Regions from separate parts of the Homo sapiens genome. Here region 1 is linked to region 2. Evidence: fine-mapped expression QTL. Tissue or cell type: cerebral cortex. Region 2 holds a variant in brackets; the other region holds the start of a gene. All regions are shown on one strand. Distances are from middle to middle.

The links. PIP is the estimated chance that this variant, and not a neighbour inherited with it, causes the effect.
Region 1: PPP1R12C starts here. The variant in region 2 is fine-mapped to the expression of PPP1R12C in cerebral cortex (GTEx, PIP above 0.99).

What each region holds. Positions count from the first base shown.
Region 1 is chr19:55,113,701-55,121,700 of GRCh38, reverse strand. It overlaps PPP1R12C (protein phosphatase 1 regulatory subunit 12C), which reads left to right and starts at 4,064. Exons shown (of 22, transcript NM_017607.4): 1 at 4,064-4,478. The coding sequence starts at 4,158. RefSeq lists enhancers at 681-770, 3,709-3,988, 4,949-5,028, 5,429-5,478, 4,833-5,668 and 2 more and silencers at 4,049-4,128, 4,319-4,398, 4,419-4,518.
Region 2 is chr19:54,832,099-54,840,339 of GRCh38, reverse strand. KIR2DS4 (killer cell immunoglobulin like receptor, two Ig domains and short cytoplasmic tail 4 (gene/pseudogene)) reads right to left here and starts at 7,633. Exons shown (of 7, transcript NM_001281972.2): 1 at 7,542-7,633; 2 at 5,226-5,261; 3 at 2,465-2,764; 4 at 641-912. The coding sequence starts at 7,575. The variant T/C (reference allele first, on the strand shown) is at 3,904.

The DNA.
Region 1 (8,000 bases), 280 kb before region 2:
TTATAATGGCAGTGCTAAACTAACAGTGTCATTGAGGAGTTATGTTTGGCTGATAGTAAGAGACAGCTCCCCAAATAACAATAGTTTTGGTGAATTGGAGGTTTGTTTTCTCATATGTAACCTAAAAGACAAGAGGTAGGCAGTCCAGGGAAGGAAAGGCAGATCCCAACTGCCATCAGGAACTGAGGCTTCTAAGGCCAGGTGCAGTGGCTCATGCCTGTAATCCCAGCACTTTGGGAGGCCAAGGCGGGCAGATCATGAGGTCAGGAGTTTGAGACTATCCTGGCCAACATGGTGAAACCCCGTCTCTACTAAAAATACAAGAATTAGCCAGGCGTGGTGGCGTGCACCTGTAGTCCCAAGAGAATCGCTTGAACCCAAGAGGTGGAGGTTGCAGTGAGCTGAGATCATGCCGCTGCACTCCAGCCTGGGTGACAGAGCGAGACTCCATCTCAAAAAAAAAAAAAAAAAAAAGAAATTCCAGTTCTGGATTTGACAGTCCTCAGATTGAACCTTGTCTTGGCCAATTTCTAGCTCTGTGACTGGGGCTAGTCTCTTAGTCTCTGCCTCCTGGAGTTGATGAGATGATGTACATAAAATATCTGATAGGCATGTGATGTTGGCTGTGAGCATCTTCATATGCCACTCAAGAACATCATCTTTTGCTCTTGTCTTCCTGTGGTAAAGGTTTTGTTTTCACTTCTAGGGTCTGCTCTTTGCTCTCAATGGTAACAGTGGAATGTTGGTGCTTAACCTTGGAACTGCAGGCCCTCCTCACTGGTGTAAATAACCTCAGAAAGATAAGAAGAAAATGTTCCCACTTCTTCTGTAACAGCAGAAAAATAGATATTAGTCTGCACCATAAAGATGGTTCAGATAAGCAGGTGAAGTTAGAACATCCACAAAAGTATAAAATTGACTCTTCTGTCCTGTGTGGAGAGGGGTAAGAGTATTATAAGCCCATTCTGATTTCTGTTATTTTACTCTTTTTTGATTGCGCCAGTGCAATCCAGCCTGGGCGATGACAAGAGTGAAACTCCATCTCAAAACAAACAAACAAACAAACAAAAACAAACCATAAACACAAACTCATAAACAACATACATCCAGCCACAGACATGATTGCAAATACACACAATTATACATAAAGGCACAGAATACATACAGAACCAGAGCTACACGGTAACACCCTGAAGACCGACTTCTTGTTTTCCTGGGGGAAGGAGGTTGGTGTGTAAGTATGTGGAAAGTGTGGGGTTCAGGGACCACACCTAAGAGCCACCAGAACTATCCCTTTCTATAGAAACAGGCTTCGTGGCGGATGAAGACCCCATCTTGGGGTTCCACCAGATATTCCTACTAAAGAACATCAGCTGGGTGTGGTGGCTCATGCCTGTAATCCCAGCACTTTGGGAAGCTGAGGCGGGTGGATCACTTGAGGTCAGGAGATCGAGACCAGCCTGGCCAACATGGTGAAACCTTGTCTCTACTAAAAATACAAAAATTAGCCAGGCGTGGAGCACGCCTGTAATCCCAGCTACTTGGGAGGCTGAGGTAGGAGAATCACTTGAACCTGGGAGGCGGAGGTTGCAGTGAGCCGAGATCACATCACTGCACTCCAGCCTGGGCGACACAGTGAGACTCCGTCTCAAAAACAAAACAAAACCAAACAAAACAAAACATCAGCGATGCAATGATGCTTGGGTTTGCACCAATGATATGCAGGCTTGCTCTGCACAACTTCAGCTGACCTCCTCTCCACCGGGCCCTCACGCTGCCTCCTCTTCCCTCCTCTTTCCAGAACTATTGCCACTCCTCCAGATATGATGCACAAATGAGCAGGGTCGCAGTGGGAGTGGGCGCAGTGCGCTGATGCCACGGAGGTGTTGTGCATGACGTCTGGACACTAGACTAGCTGCATGTAATGGGAAAAGTTTGTGTTGTACCAGCGCATGCCTTGGAAAGACTTAAGTAATGCAAAAGGTTGTCCTTTAAAAAAAAAAAAAATCTGGCCGGTCGCGGCGGCTCACGCCTGTAATCCCAGCATTTTGGGAGGCCGAGGCAGTCGGATCACGAGGTCAGGAATTCGAGACCAGCCTGGCCAACATGGTGAAACCCCGTCTCTACTAAAAAACAAAAATTAGCCGGGCGTGGTGGAGCACGCCTGTAGTCCCAGCTACTCAGGAGGCTGAGGCAGGAGAATCGCTTGAACCCGGGAGGCAGAGCTTGCAGTGAGCCGACATCGCGCCACTGCACTCCAGCCTGGGCGACAGAGCAAGCCTCCGTCTCAAAAACAACAACAACAACAAAAAAAAACAAAACTACTGACAAGTTGCTCTACTTAACCCAAAGAAAGTGAAGGAGAAAGCGGCTGCCTCACCGCCTAGACATTGAGTCGCCGGATGTTTCAATGCCTCATGATACAATAAAACCACAAAAATTTTCGTAACAGCAGCAGCAACAACAACAACAAAAGAGAAAGAGAGAGGGAAAGAAACAGGCCTCGTGGGATGCGCAGTTTACGTCTCCGCGCAAACCCAAGGACTTCAGAGTGGGTGGGAAACTCCCACAGCGCTTGGGAAACAGTCTGTAGTCTCTGTCCCGATTTTGGCCCTTTTCTGTATGATTTTTATGGGACTCTTCCTGTCACAAAGTGCCAGCCACCTTCCCAATCTTGAGTTGGGCGCGGGATCCGTAAGGTGAAGATCAAGGTGTGCTCATCGCTTGGGCCCGCTGAAAGGTGATTCGCCCCCCACCTGCTGGAACTCCTTGCCCGGGACCACCAATCCCAGCATGCCTTGAGAGCGCGCGAGGGCCTGGGCGGTTCCCAGGAGGTCCGGGTGGGCGCAGGAGAAGCGCGGGCCAGTGAAAGCTCTGAGAGCCCTGTCCCTGTGGACACTGTGTCTTGGGTTCCTTTACTCGGTGTGGCTCAGGGATTACCATTAGGGAGTGGAGTGTGGATTTCTCTTGCCCCGAGCCCTAAATGCCTTGGGGCCCTGCCTTGCACCCCACTGTGCTTTTAGGGGTGTGGCCCTGTGGGCTACATTTCCCAGCGTGCCCTAGGATCGTGGTCCTGACCTTTTCACCGCAAATTTCATTTCCCAGCATGCCCTGCGAGGTCACCCAGGGAAGCTTGGAAGTGGACTGTCTTTCATGGCTTCTAGGTTGCGGACTCAGTTTCCCATGGTGCCCTGGTGAACCCATTCATTCATTCATTCCAAAAATATTTGCGATCAGGTTCTCTCAGGTTCTGTTCTAAGAACCGAGGACAAGTAGTGCACAGAAGACAAAAGATCCCGCTCTCGTGGAGCTTATTTCTAGTTAAGGGGTCAGGAAAAAAACCAAAATAAATAAAACCCAGCTGGGCATGGTGGCTTACGCTCGTCATCCCAGCAGGATTACAGGCCGAGGCGGGCGGATCATGAGGTCAAGAGATCAAGACCATCATGGCCAACATGGTGAAATCCCGTCTCTACTAAAAATATAAAAATTAGCAGGGCGGGGTGGCGCGCGCCTGTTATCCCAGCTACTCTGGGGACTGAGCCAGAATTGCTTGAACCTGGGAAGCGGAGGTTGCAGCGAGCCGATATCGCGCCACTGAACTCCAGCGTGGCGACAGAGCGAGACTCCGTCTCAAAACAAAGAAAACAAAATAAAACAACAATAACAAAACAACTCTGCCTCTCCCCGCACTCCCTCCCACGCGGCTGTCCAGTCGAATTCCTAACTGCCCCGGGGCAGTCTGCTATTCATCCCCTTTACCCGGTGCTACACACTTCCTAGTATGCCGTGGGGCACCCCTCCGGCCTGTAGACTCCATTTCCCAGCATTCCCCGGAGGAGGCCCTCATCTGGCGATTTCCACTGGGCGCCTCGGAGCTGCGGACTTCCCAGTGTGCATCGGGGCACAGCGACTCCTGGAAGTGGCCAAGGGCCACTTCTGCTAATGGACTCCATTTCCCAGCGCTCCCCGCGACCTGCCCAGCACACCCTGGGGCAGCGCCGTGACGTCAGCACGCCGGGCGGGGACCGGGAGATCCTTGGGGCGGTGGGGGGCCAGCGGCAGTTCCCGGCGGCCCCCGGGGCGGGCGGGCGGGCGGGTGGTGGCGGCGGTTGGGGCTCGGCGCTCGCTCGCTCGCTGGGCGGGCGGGCGGTGCGATGTCCGGAGAGGATGGCCCGGCGGCTGGCCCGGGGGCGGCGGCGGCGGCTGCCCGGGAGCGGCGACGGGAGCAGCTGCGGCAGTGGGGGGCGCGGGCGGGCGCCGAGCCTGGCCCCGGAGAGCGCCGCGCCCGCACCGTCCGCTTCGAGCGCGCCGCCGAGTTCCTGGCGGCCTGTGCGGGCGGCGACCTGGACGAGGCGCGTCTGATGCTGCGCGCCGCCGACCCTGGCCCCGGCGCCGAGCTCGACCCCGCCGCGCCGCCGCCCGCCCGCGCCGTGCTGGACTCCACCAACGCCGACGGTATCAGCGCCCTGCACCAGGTCAGCGCCCCCCGCCCGGCGTCTCCCGGGGCCAGGTCCACCCTCTGCTGCGCCACCTGGGGCATCCTCCTTCCCCGTTGCCAGTCTCGATCCGCCCCGTCGTTCCTGGCCCTGGGCTTTGCCACCCTATGCTGACACCCCGTCCCAGTCCCCCTTACCATTCCCCTTCGACCACCCCACTTCCGAATTGGAGCCGCTTCAACTGGCCCTGGGCTTAGCCACTCTGTGCTGACCACTCTGCCCCAGGCCTCCTTACCATTCCCCTTCGACCTACTCTCTTCCGCATTGGAGTCGCTTTAACTGGCCCTGGCTTTGGCAGCCTGTGCTGACCCATGCAGTCCTCCTTACCATCCCTCCCTCGACTTCCCCTCTTCCGATGTTGAGCCCCTCCAGCCGGTCCTGGACTTTGTCTCCTTCCCTGCCCTGCCCTCTCCTGAACCTGAGCCAGCTCCCATAGCTCAGTCTGGTCTATCTGCCTGGCCCTGGCCATTGTCACTTTGCGCTGCCCTCCTCTCGCCCCCGAGTGCCCTTGCTGTGCCGCCGGAACTCTGCCCTCTAACGCTGCCGTCTCTCTCCTGAGTCCGGACCACTTTGAGCTCTACTGGCTTCTGCGCCGCCTCTGGCCCACTGTTTCCCCTTCCCAGGCAGGTCCTGCTTTCTCTGACCTGCATTCTCTCCCCTGGGCCTGTGCCGCTTTCTGTCTGCAGCTTGTGGCCTGGGTCACCTCTACGGCTGGCCCAGATCCTTCCCTGCCGCCTCCTTCAGGTTCCGTCTTCCTCCACTCCCTCTTCCCCTTGCTCTCTGCTGTGTTGCTGCCCAAGGATGCTCTTTCCGGAGCACTTCCTTCTCGGCGCTGCACCACGTGATGTCCTCTGAGCGGATCCTCCCCGTGTCTGGGTCCTCTCCGGGCATCTCTCCTCCCTCACCCAACCCCATGCCGTCTTCACTCGCTGGGTTCCCTTTTCCTTCTCCTTCTGGGGCCTGTGCCATCTCTCGTTTCTTAGGATGGCCTTCTCCGACGGATGTCTCCCTTGCGTCCCGCCTCCCCTTCTTGTAGGCCTGCATCATCACCGTTTTTCTGGACAACCCCAAAGTACCCCGTCTCCCTGGCTTTAGCCACCTCTCCATCCTCTTGCTTTCTTTGCCTGGACACCCCGTTCTCCTGTGGATTCGGGTCACCTCTCACTCCTTTCATTTGGGCAGCTCCCCTACCCCCCTTACCTCTCTAGTCTGTGCTAGCTCTTCCAGCCCCCTGTCATGGCATCTTCCAGGGGTCCGAGAGCTCAGCTAGTCTTCTTCCTCCAACCCGGGCCCCTATGTCCACTTCAGGACAGCATGTTTGCTGCCTCCAGGGATCCTGTGTCCCCGAGCTGGGACCACCTTATATTCCCAGGGCCGGTTAATGTGGCTCTGGTTCTGGGTACTTTTATCTGTCCCCTCCACCCCACAGTGGGGCCACTAGGGACAGGATTGGTGACAGAAAAGCCCCATCCTTAGGCCTCCTCCTTCCTAGTCTCCTGATATTGGGTCTAACCCCCACCTCCTGTTAGGCAGATTCCTTATCTGGTGACACACCCCCATTTCCTGGAGCCATCTCTCTCCTTGCCAGAACCTCTAAGGTTTGCTTACGATGGAGCCAGAGAGGATCCTGGGAGGGAGAGCTTGGCAGGGGGTGGGAGGGAAGGGGGGGATGCGTGACCTGCCCGGTTCTCAGTGGCCACCCTGCGCTACCCTCTCCCAGAACCTGAGCTGCTCTGACGCGGCCGTCTGGTGCGTTTCACTGATCCTGGTGCTGCAGCTTCCTTACACTTCCCAAGAGGAGAAGCAGTTTGGAAAAACAAAATCAGAATAAGTTGGTCCTGAGTTCTAACTTTGGCTCTTCACCTTTCTAGTCCCCAATTTATATTGTTCCTCCGTGCGTCAGTTTTACCTGTGAGATAAGGCCAGTAGCCAGCCCCGTCCTGGCAGGGCTGTGGTGAGGAGGGGGGTGTCCGTGTGGAAAACTCCCTTTGTGAGAATGGTGCGTCCTAGGTGTTCACCAGGTCGTGGCCGCCTCTACTCCCTTTCTCTTTCTCCATCCTTCTTTCCTTAAAGAGTCCCCAGTGCTATCTGGGACATATTCCTCCGCCCAGAGCAGGGTCCCGCTTCCCTAAGGCCCTGCTCTGGGCTTCTGGGTTTGAGTCCTTGGCAAGCCCAGGAGAGGCGCTCAGGCTTCCCTGTCCCCCTTCCTCGTCCACCATCTCATGCCCCTGGCTCTCCTGCCCCTTCCCTACAGGGGTTCCTGGCTCTGCTCTTCAGACTGAGCCCCGTTCCCCTGCATCCCCGTTCCCCTGCATCCCCCTTCCCCTGCATCCCCCAGAGGCCCCAGGCCACCTACTTGGCCTGGACCCCACGAGAGGCCACCCCAGCCCTGTCTACCAGGCTGCCTTTTGGGTGGATTCTCCTCCAACTGTGGGGTGACTGCTTGGCAAACTCACTCTTCGGGGTATCCCAGGAGGCCTGGAGCATTGGGGTGGGCTGGGGTTCAGAGAGGAGGGATTCCCTTCTCAGGTTACGTGGCCAAGAAGCAGGGGAGCTGGGTTTGGGTCAGGTCTGGGTGTGGGGTGACCAGCTTATGCTGTTTGCCCAGGACAGCCTAGTTTTAGCACTGAAACCCTCAGTCCTAGGAAAACAGGGATGGTTGGTCACTGTCTCTGGGTGACTCTTGATTCCCGGCCAGTTTCTCCACCTGGGGCTGTGTTTCTCGTCCTGCATCCTTCTCCAGGCAGGTCCCCAAGCATCGCCCCCCTGCTGTGGCTGTTCCCAAGTTCTTAGGGTACCCCACGTGGGTTTATCAACCACTTGGTGAGGCTGGTACCCTGCCCCCATTCCTGCACCCCAATTGCCTTAGTGGCTAGGGGGTTGGGGGCTAGAGTAGGAGGGGCTGGAGCCAGGATTCTTAGGGCTGAACAGAGAAGAGCTGGGGGCCTGGGCTCCTGGGTTTGAGAGAGGAGGGGCTGGGGCCTGGACTCCTGGGTCCGAGGGAGGAGGGGCTGGGGCCTGGACTCCTGGGTCTGAGGGTGGAGGGACTGGGGGCCTGGACTCCTGGGTCCGAGGGAGGAGGGGCTGGGGCCTGGACTCGTGGGTCTGAGGGAGGAGGGGCTGGGGGCCTGGACTTCTGGGTCTTAGGGAGGCGGGGCTGGGCCTGGACCCCTGGGTCTGAATGGGGAGAGGCTGGGGGCCTGGACTCCTTCATCTGAGGGCGGAAGGGCTGGGGCCTGGCCTCCTGGGTTGAATGGGGAGGGGTTGGGCCTGGACTCTGGAGTCCCTGGTGCCCAGGCCTCAGGCATCTTTCACAGGGATGCCTGTACTGGGCAGGTCCTTGAAAGGGAAAGGCCCATTGCTCTCCTTGCCCCCCTCCCCTATCGCCATGACAACTGGGTGGAAATAAACGAGCCGAGTTCATCCCGTTCCCAGGGCACGTGCGGCCCCTTCACAGCCCGAGTTTCCATGACCTCATGCTCTTGGCCCTCGTAGCTCCCT
Region 2 (8,241 bases):
TGGTGAAACCCCCTCTCTACTAAAAATACAAAAAGTAGCCCGGCGTGGTGATGGGCGCCTGTAGTACCAGCTACTCAGGTGGCTGAGGCAGGAGAATCGCTTGAACCCAGGAGGCGGAGGTTACAGTGAGCTGAGATTGTGCCACTGCATTCCAGCATAGGAGACAGAGCTAGACTCCACCTCAAAAAAAAAAAAATGTTAAAAGTGGTAAGCTATATAGGTATATTTAACCTCAATGAATATTTTTTCAAACAAAAAGAAAAGGATGTAGGGGTTGCTGGTGATGACATCTCTGTGTGGGTGAGAGGCCAGGAAGGGCTTCTGGGAAATGGGTAAGGTTGAGGGGCTGAGGGAACCTCTGATCTCCCCAAACTGAGCCCAGTCTCCCCTTCTCTGGGTCTCTCCTGACCGCTTTCTACATCTGCCTGGGTTTCTGGAGCCCTAATCGGAGGCCTCCATGCAGGCCATGCAGGAGGGTTTGGAGGTGCTGTGTGTGCCATCCTGCGCCCTGATCCCTCCCTCACAGGCATGCTGCGTCTTCTCTCTGCATCTGTCCATGCTTCTCTCCATCATCAGCAGGAAGCTCCTCAGCTAAGGCTCTAGGATCATAGGACATGGGACAGATATGGGGTTTCCTCACCTGTGACGGAAACAAGCAGTGGATCACTCGAGTTTGACCACTCGTAGGGAGCGTCACGGAAAGAGCCGAAGCATCTGTAGGTCCCTCCGTGGGTGGCAGGGCCCAGAGGAAAGTCGGCCTGGAATGTTCCGTTGATGCTGCGCACTGCAGGGAGCCTACGTTCATGGGCCTCCCCTTCCCTGGATAGATGGAGCTGCAGGACAAGGTCACATTCTCTCCTGCCTGAACCGTGGGGCCCGGCTGGGCTGAGAGAGAAGGTTTCTCATATAGACCTGGAAGGAGAAGGGGCAGTTTCCTCAGGGGGGATCTTCCTTGTCACAGCTCCCCTCACACCTGACCTGAGAACTCACTCCCCTGCTCTATGGCCTAATGCTCTCTTTCTCTGTCTCACCCTCCACCCTATCTCTCTTCATGTCTATTTCCTCCTTCCACCTTCTCTGTCTCTGTAGGTCTCTGACCTCACTTCCCTACCTCTAGTTATGTTTTCCGTTTTTGGATTGTTTTATTCTCTCTGGCTCTCCTTGGATTGGTTGACTTGATGTTACTTTTTTTAACTCTGAGTTTCTCAGTTTGTGTCCCGTTCATAACTTTCTGCATATTTCTATCTATTATCTATCAATCCATCTATTTATCTATTCGGTGCCTATCTACAAATTCTCTACCTGTCATCTATATCTATATATCATCTATTTATCTATCAATTGTCTATCCGTCAATCATCTATTATCTATATATATGTATCATCTCTCTCTCTCTATTATTTCTCTCTTTGTCTTCCTCTCTATCTCTATGTATTATCTATCCATCTATCTTCATCATCATCATCTCTATGTATCATCTATTAATGAATCAATCAATCATCATCTATGTATCTATAACCTATTATCTATCATCTACCTATATATCATCTATCTATATCTATCCATCATCTATCTGTATCTATCCATCTATCATCTGTCTTGCTCTGCCTCTCGGTCTCTCTAGTTCTCTTTGGAATCTCTGCAATTCATCCCCACATCTCCATCTTTCTATGCCCTTGTGCCTCGCCCTCAGGACTCTAATTTTAGTGGTTTTCTCTGCTCTCTTCCATCATTCTCTCCACTTCTCTGCCCTCTTCTCTCTCTTTATGTGTCTGTGAGTCTCTCAATCTCCTTCCTCTGGCTCTTTCTCTGTGTGTTTATGTCTTTGCTTTTTGGTGTCCCTGATTTCTCTCTGTGCTTCTCAGTGATCCTCTCATATGTGATATGTGGGGTTATTTGGAATGTGAGCCTCAGAATCCAGTCTGGAGACCACAAGTTCACACAGCATACAGGGGTTGGTGTTCTGGGGCCATGATATTTTGGGACGATTATTCTCCATTGCATGGAAGTCAGAGGTGTCAGAATAAGCATGGCATCTGTAGGTGCCACAAGGCCTGAGGCCACAGGGCCCAACTCAGGTCAGAAATATGGGTGTCCTTGGGTTCTCCTGGTAGAGAACACTTTGTGGAGGTAAAACAGAAATGAAACTTCTAACCTGTGCCAGGTCTCTGAGCAAAGTCAGCATGGAAGGACACCTCTGTCTGGGACATGTCTGTCTGTCTCCTTTAACTCTTTCTGTCTTTTCTAACTCCCTGTATGGCCCCTGTGTTTGTCCTCTGTTATGACACCTGGTCTGTACTTGTGTCTCTTGTTTCTCTGTCTCTGTTGGCACAGACCTCACCAAGTCAGTCTCTCTCCATAAGAATACCAAGCTCATCTTCCTTACAACCACCTGGGTCTCCAAGTCCTGGATCATTCACTCTGCATCCCAATGACAATGAGAAGAATGTCTGGACACTCTCACCTATGATCACCATGTCCAGAGGGTCACTGGGAGCTGACAACTGATAGGGGGAGTGAGGAACAGAACCGTAGCATCTGTAGGTTCCTGCAAGGACAGGCATCATGGGACCAATGGAGAAGTTGGCCTTGGAAACCCCATCATGGTGCTCTCCAATGAGGTGCAAAGTGTTGTTAAACTTCCCCTCTCTGTGCAGAAGGAAGTGCTCAAACATGACATCCGACCAACATTGCAGGATGACTGTCTCTTCTGATTTCACCAGGTGACCTGGGAGGGCCAGGAAGGAAGGTTTTCTGTGGACTCCTAGGAAGAGAGGTTGTGAGTTTAGAAGGTGTCTCTCTTTATCATCCCATCCATGGCACCTGGAATGAGTGAGCCTTCCCTTCGCTGGTGTCTGTCTCTCTGCTTCCTCTCTGTGTCTTCATGTTCTTTTCTGTGCCCATAACTCCTGGTGCAGGTCCTTCCATCTGTCTCCCTCCCTCTTCTCTGTCCCTCTGTCTCTAGTAGCTGTGATTCCCTTCCCACTGGGCTCAGCCTCATCTCTTGGGCTGTTGTATCTATTTCACACTAATGTCTTTCTTACTGTCTATGTGGGAGTGGAAGAGGAAGCAGGATAGGCTGCACGTCCCGGCTCTTAGCAGCTTGGTTCAATCTCTTTTGGACGAATTGGAATCCTTGGCAGGAGGTATGAACTGATCAGTAAGGCAGGCACCAGTGTCCACACACCCTGTTCCTGGTGGGGACTGGGAGCCACTCTTGCCATGTCTGTGCCTTCTCCATGGTGCCAGTTTCCATAGGCTGGCTCCTCGTGCTGATTTGAGGAGTATCAACCCCTCCCTATGTGGATGGAGCCTGGTGGTGGCATCATCATCCCACCCTTGCTGATCTCGGTGTAGCCAACCTTCTCTTTGTTTGGTTTCTTTAATTAATTAATTAATTTTGGAGACAGAGTCTCACTCCTTCACCCAGGCTGGAGTGAAGTGGTGTGGTCTACGCTCACTGCAACCTCTGTCTCCTGGGTTCAAGCGATTCTCCTGCTCTCAGCCTCCCGAGTCGCTAGGATTACATGCACCTGCCACCATGCCTGGCTATCCTTGTGTCTTTTCTTAACTTGTCCTTGACCTGGGTTCCAGTGTTGGTTTCCTGTTGCTGCTGTAGAAAATTATCAGAAGCATGGCAGCAGGAGAGAGCACACTGACCCCCTCCGATTCTGGAGACAGAAAGCGGACCCTGTTTTTCGAGGGCTAAAATCAAGGCATCTGCAGGGCTGTGTTCCCTCTGGAGACTCAGGAGAATCAGTTACTTGACTTTCCCAGCCTCTATAGGCCACCTGCATTCATGGCTTATGGCCTTCATCCACCTTCAAAGCTGATGGAGTCTCCCACTACGCTGCTCTAATCCCCACTCTCCTCTTCCTCCTCCTTTCATGTGGACACTTGTGA[T/C]TATACTGAGCCCACCGGGACAGTCCAGGCTGTCTCCCCATCTCAAGGTCAACTCATCAACAACCTGAGCTCCATCTTCCCCTTCAGTCCCTTCCCCTATAACATAAATAGTCACAGACTCCAGGGATTAGAATGCAGTCATCACTGGGGACACTTATTCTTCCCACCACAGCACCCATTTCCCTGTATTCAATCCCCCTTTACCCCAAATACAGTTAGGGCCTGCGTGATGGGACCCTCAAGGACATGCCTACCAGAAGCTCTGGGATTCAGGAGGTGGGACAAGGAGAATCCCAGACAGGAGCCCTCTGACCTGTGACCACGATCACCAGGGGGTTGCTGGGTGCCGACCACCCACTGGGGGAGTGTGTGTGTGAACCCCGGCATGTATAGGTCCCTGCATGTGACGTGGTCACAGGGCCCATGAAAAGGCTTTTCCAGAATATTCTGTTGTACAGCTCAGGGACAGGCACCCCATCATCCTTGTACAGACTGAAGTTGTTAAACCCAAGATTAGAGTGACACTGAAGAGTCACATGTTCTGGAGGCACCACAAGGCTGGGCCAGGTAGAAAGCAAGGGCTTGTCCTGACCACCTTGGGGTGAAGGAGGCGCCGCCTTAGAGAGGAGGATGTGGAGCTGTGCCTCCCTCCCTGTGCTCAGAAGATTCTCCCCACTTTCCACATTTCTATGGCTGCTATCACACCTTGGTGCCTAGGGCTAAAGGAAGGACCCATCCCACAAAGACAAGGTGTCTCCGTACAACAAAAGTGTCAGCTGAGAACTTTGAGCAAGTGCTGAGTAAGAGACTCCTACTAGATTTTAATACTGTAAGATTACTGACATAAAACAACACAGGGTAGACATGAAGTGGAGGGCATGTCCTTTGAGAATGGAATATCAGCAGTTGCCTGAATGAAAATAAAAAACTTAGCCCCCATCAGAGGATTTGGAATGTCAGGGCCATGGCTGTGGTTTCCCACCTCTTCTGGTAGAATGACAGCAGCCACACTGCAGCCCCTACCGTCATGGAAACGCTGAAGTGTGTGAGTAACACCTTTGTCCTCAGAGGATCTGCTGTTCCTACCACTTCCCCACCACACAACCCAGCTTTGAACACCCTAGTCCAACCCTGGTCCCCACACAACTTGACTCTGCCAAGGGGTTGAGAGGCCAGGGAGGCAAGGTCGGAACTGTGGGCCGAGCACCCCAGGGTCCCCTCTTCCTAGTTTATGAGAGACTCCCTGACAGGACTTCCCTCCCGTTTCAGGAAAATCCTCTTATGTGGGGAGATGACACCCTAAGGTTTGGAGAAGGACTTACCCTCCTGTGGCCAGGCCCCCTGCAGCAAGAAGAACCCTGGAAAGAAAGATCATGATGGAAGATCCATTTGCAGGCAAACAAGGCCTTCCTTGCTGCCCCCACTGGGCTGTGAGTCTTGATAGCCAGCCCCTTCCTGGGCCGAAGGGAAACTCACCATCAGAGCCTACCTGCACCCAAGAACAGTGCTCTCGGCTGTGCAGAGACCCAGCCTCCAGGCCCATATCCCCACCCCAAGCCCATATCTCCACTCCAGGCCCATATCTCCACTCCAGGCCGATATTTCCACCCTAGACCCATATAGCCAATCCGGGCCCACATCTCCAATCCAGGCTCAGATCTCCACCCTCGGCCCATATCTCCAATCCAGGCCCATATCTCCACTCCAGGCCCATATCTCCACTCCAGTCCCATATCTCCTCTCCAGTCCCATATCTCCACTCCAGGCCCATATCTCCACCCCAGGCCCAGATCTCCACCTCCAGGCCCATAACTACACTCCAGGATCATATCTCCACTCCAAGCCCATATCTCCACATCAGGCCCATATCTCCACTCCAGTCCCATATCTCCACACCCAGGCCCATATCTCCATTCCAGGCCCATATCCCCATCCTAGGCCCATATCTCCACCGTAGGCCCAGATCTCCACTCCAGGCCCATATCTCCACTCCAGGGCCATATCTCCACTCCAGGCCCATATCTACACACCAGGCCCATATCTCCACCCCATGCCCATGTCTCCACTCCAGATCCATATCTCCACCCCACGCCCATATCTCCACTCCAGGCCCATATCTCCAACCCACGCCCATATCTCCACCTCCAGGCACATATCTCCACCCCACGCCCGTATCTCCACTCCAGTCCCATATCTCCACTCCCGGCCCATGTCTCCACCCCATGCCTATATCTCCACTCCAGTCCCATATCTCCACTCCAGGCCCATATCTCCACTCCAGACCCATATCTCCACTCGGCCCATGTCTACACTCCAGGCCCATATCACCACCTCCAGGCCCATATCTCCACTCCAGGCCCATATCTCCACCTCCAGGCCCGTATCTCCACTCCAGACCCATATGTCCACTCCAGGCCCATATCTCCACTCCAGGCCCATATCTCCACTCCAGGGCCATATCTCCACTCCAGGCTCATATCTCCACTCCAGGCCCATATCTCCACTCCAGGGCCATATCTCCACTCCAGGCTCATATCTCCACTCCAGGCCCATATCTCCACTCCAGGGCCATATCTCCACTCCAGGCCCAGATCTCCACCTCCAGGCCCGTATCTCCACTCTAGTCCCATATCTCCACTCCAGGCCCATATCTCCACCTCCAGGCCCATAACTTCACTCCAGGCCCATAACTCCACTCCAGGCCCATATCTCCACCTCCAGGCCCATATCTCCACTCCAGGGCCATATCTCCACTCCAGGCTCATATCTCCACTCCAGGCCCATATCTCCACTCCAGGGCCATATCTCCACTCCAGGCCCAGATCTCCACCTCCAGGCCCCTATCTCCACTCTAGTCCCATATCTCCACTCCAGGCCCATATCTCCACCTCCAGGCCCATAACTTCACTCCAGGCCCATAACTCCACTCCAGGCCCATATCTCCACCTCCAGGCCCATATCTCCACTGCAGACCCATATCTCCACTCCAGGCCCATATCTCCACTCCAGGCCCAGATCTCCACTCCAGGCCCAGATCTCCACTCCAGGCCCAGATCTCCACCTCCAGGCCCCTATCTCCACTCTAGTCCCATATCTCCACTCCAGGCCCATATCTCCACCTCCAGGCCCATAACTTCACTCCAGGCCCATAACTCCACTGCAGACCCATATCTCCACTCCAGGCCCATATCTCCACTCCAGGACCATATCTCCACTCCAGGCTCATATCTCCACTCCAGGCCCGTATCTCCACCTCCAGGCCCATAACTTCACTCCAGGCCCATAACTCCACTCCAGGCCCATATCTCCACTCCAGTCCCATATCTCCACTCCAGTCCCATATCTCCACCCTAGGCTCCTACCTCCCCTCCAGGTTCCTATCTCTCCTCCAGGTTCCTCTCTCCACTCCAGGTTCCTATCCCCACTCCAGGCCCATATCTCCACTCCAGGCCCAGATCTTCACTCCAGGCCCAGATCTCCACTCCAGGCGCAGATCTCCACTTCTAGGCTCATCACTCCATCTCTAGGCCCAGATCTCCACTCCAGGCCCATAACTCCACCTCCAGGCCCATATCTCCACCTCTGGGCCCAGATCTCCATCCCCACGCTCCCTCCCTCTATTCCCTTCCAGGACTCACCAACACACGCCATGATGATGACCATGAGCGACATGGTGCTGCCGGTGCAGACAGGCGGCCGCGCCCCAGCTCAGCTCAGCAGCGCACAGGATGTTATTTGGCGCCCTGCCCATGCAGTTTACATGTTGACCACATCATGGGAGGGTGACGTACGCAGGCTTTTTCTACCTTGCATGAGGCCCAGTGGGTGCTCGCTCAAGAGCAGAACATGGCTTCCTGGAAATTGCTCTCACTAGAATTGACACCTCGCGTCCTTCACTATGACCAACTCAAAACATGTCTTAGATCCAACCTCCCAAACATGAGATGCCTAAAATCTGTGCTAACATGAAAGACTTTTCATGAATTTTTATTGTTTTTATCTGAGATTCGAACTCTTCTTCCTGTGTAATATGCAAAATATCTAATAGGTATTATTAGTGTTTTCAGAGTCATTGTGACTAATAAACCATTAGAATTGTTCATGCTTGTATTTCTAGTATTACAGCAGAACCAGTTCAAATGATTTAAATTCCCAGGGAAGGATTATGCAATTATTTACAATCTTAGAATTGTACTTTATCAGCAAAAACCACACATGTAAATTCTGGATTTTTGTAGTTTTATCTATAATTTGTCTCATGACTCAAGATTCCAGAGTCCCAACTCTGGAGTTTGCTCTCTCTCTGTCTCTCTGCCTCCCTCATTTTAAATTTTACAG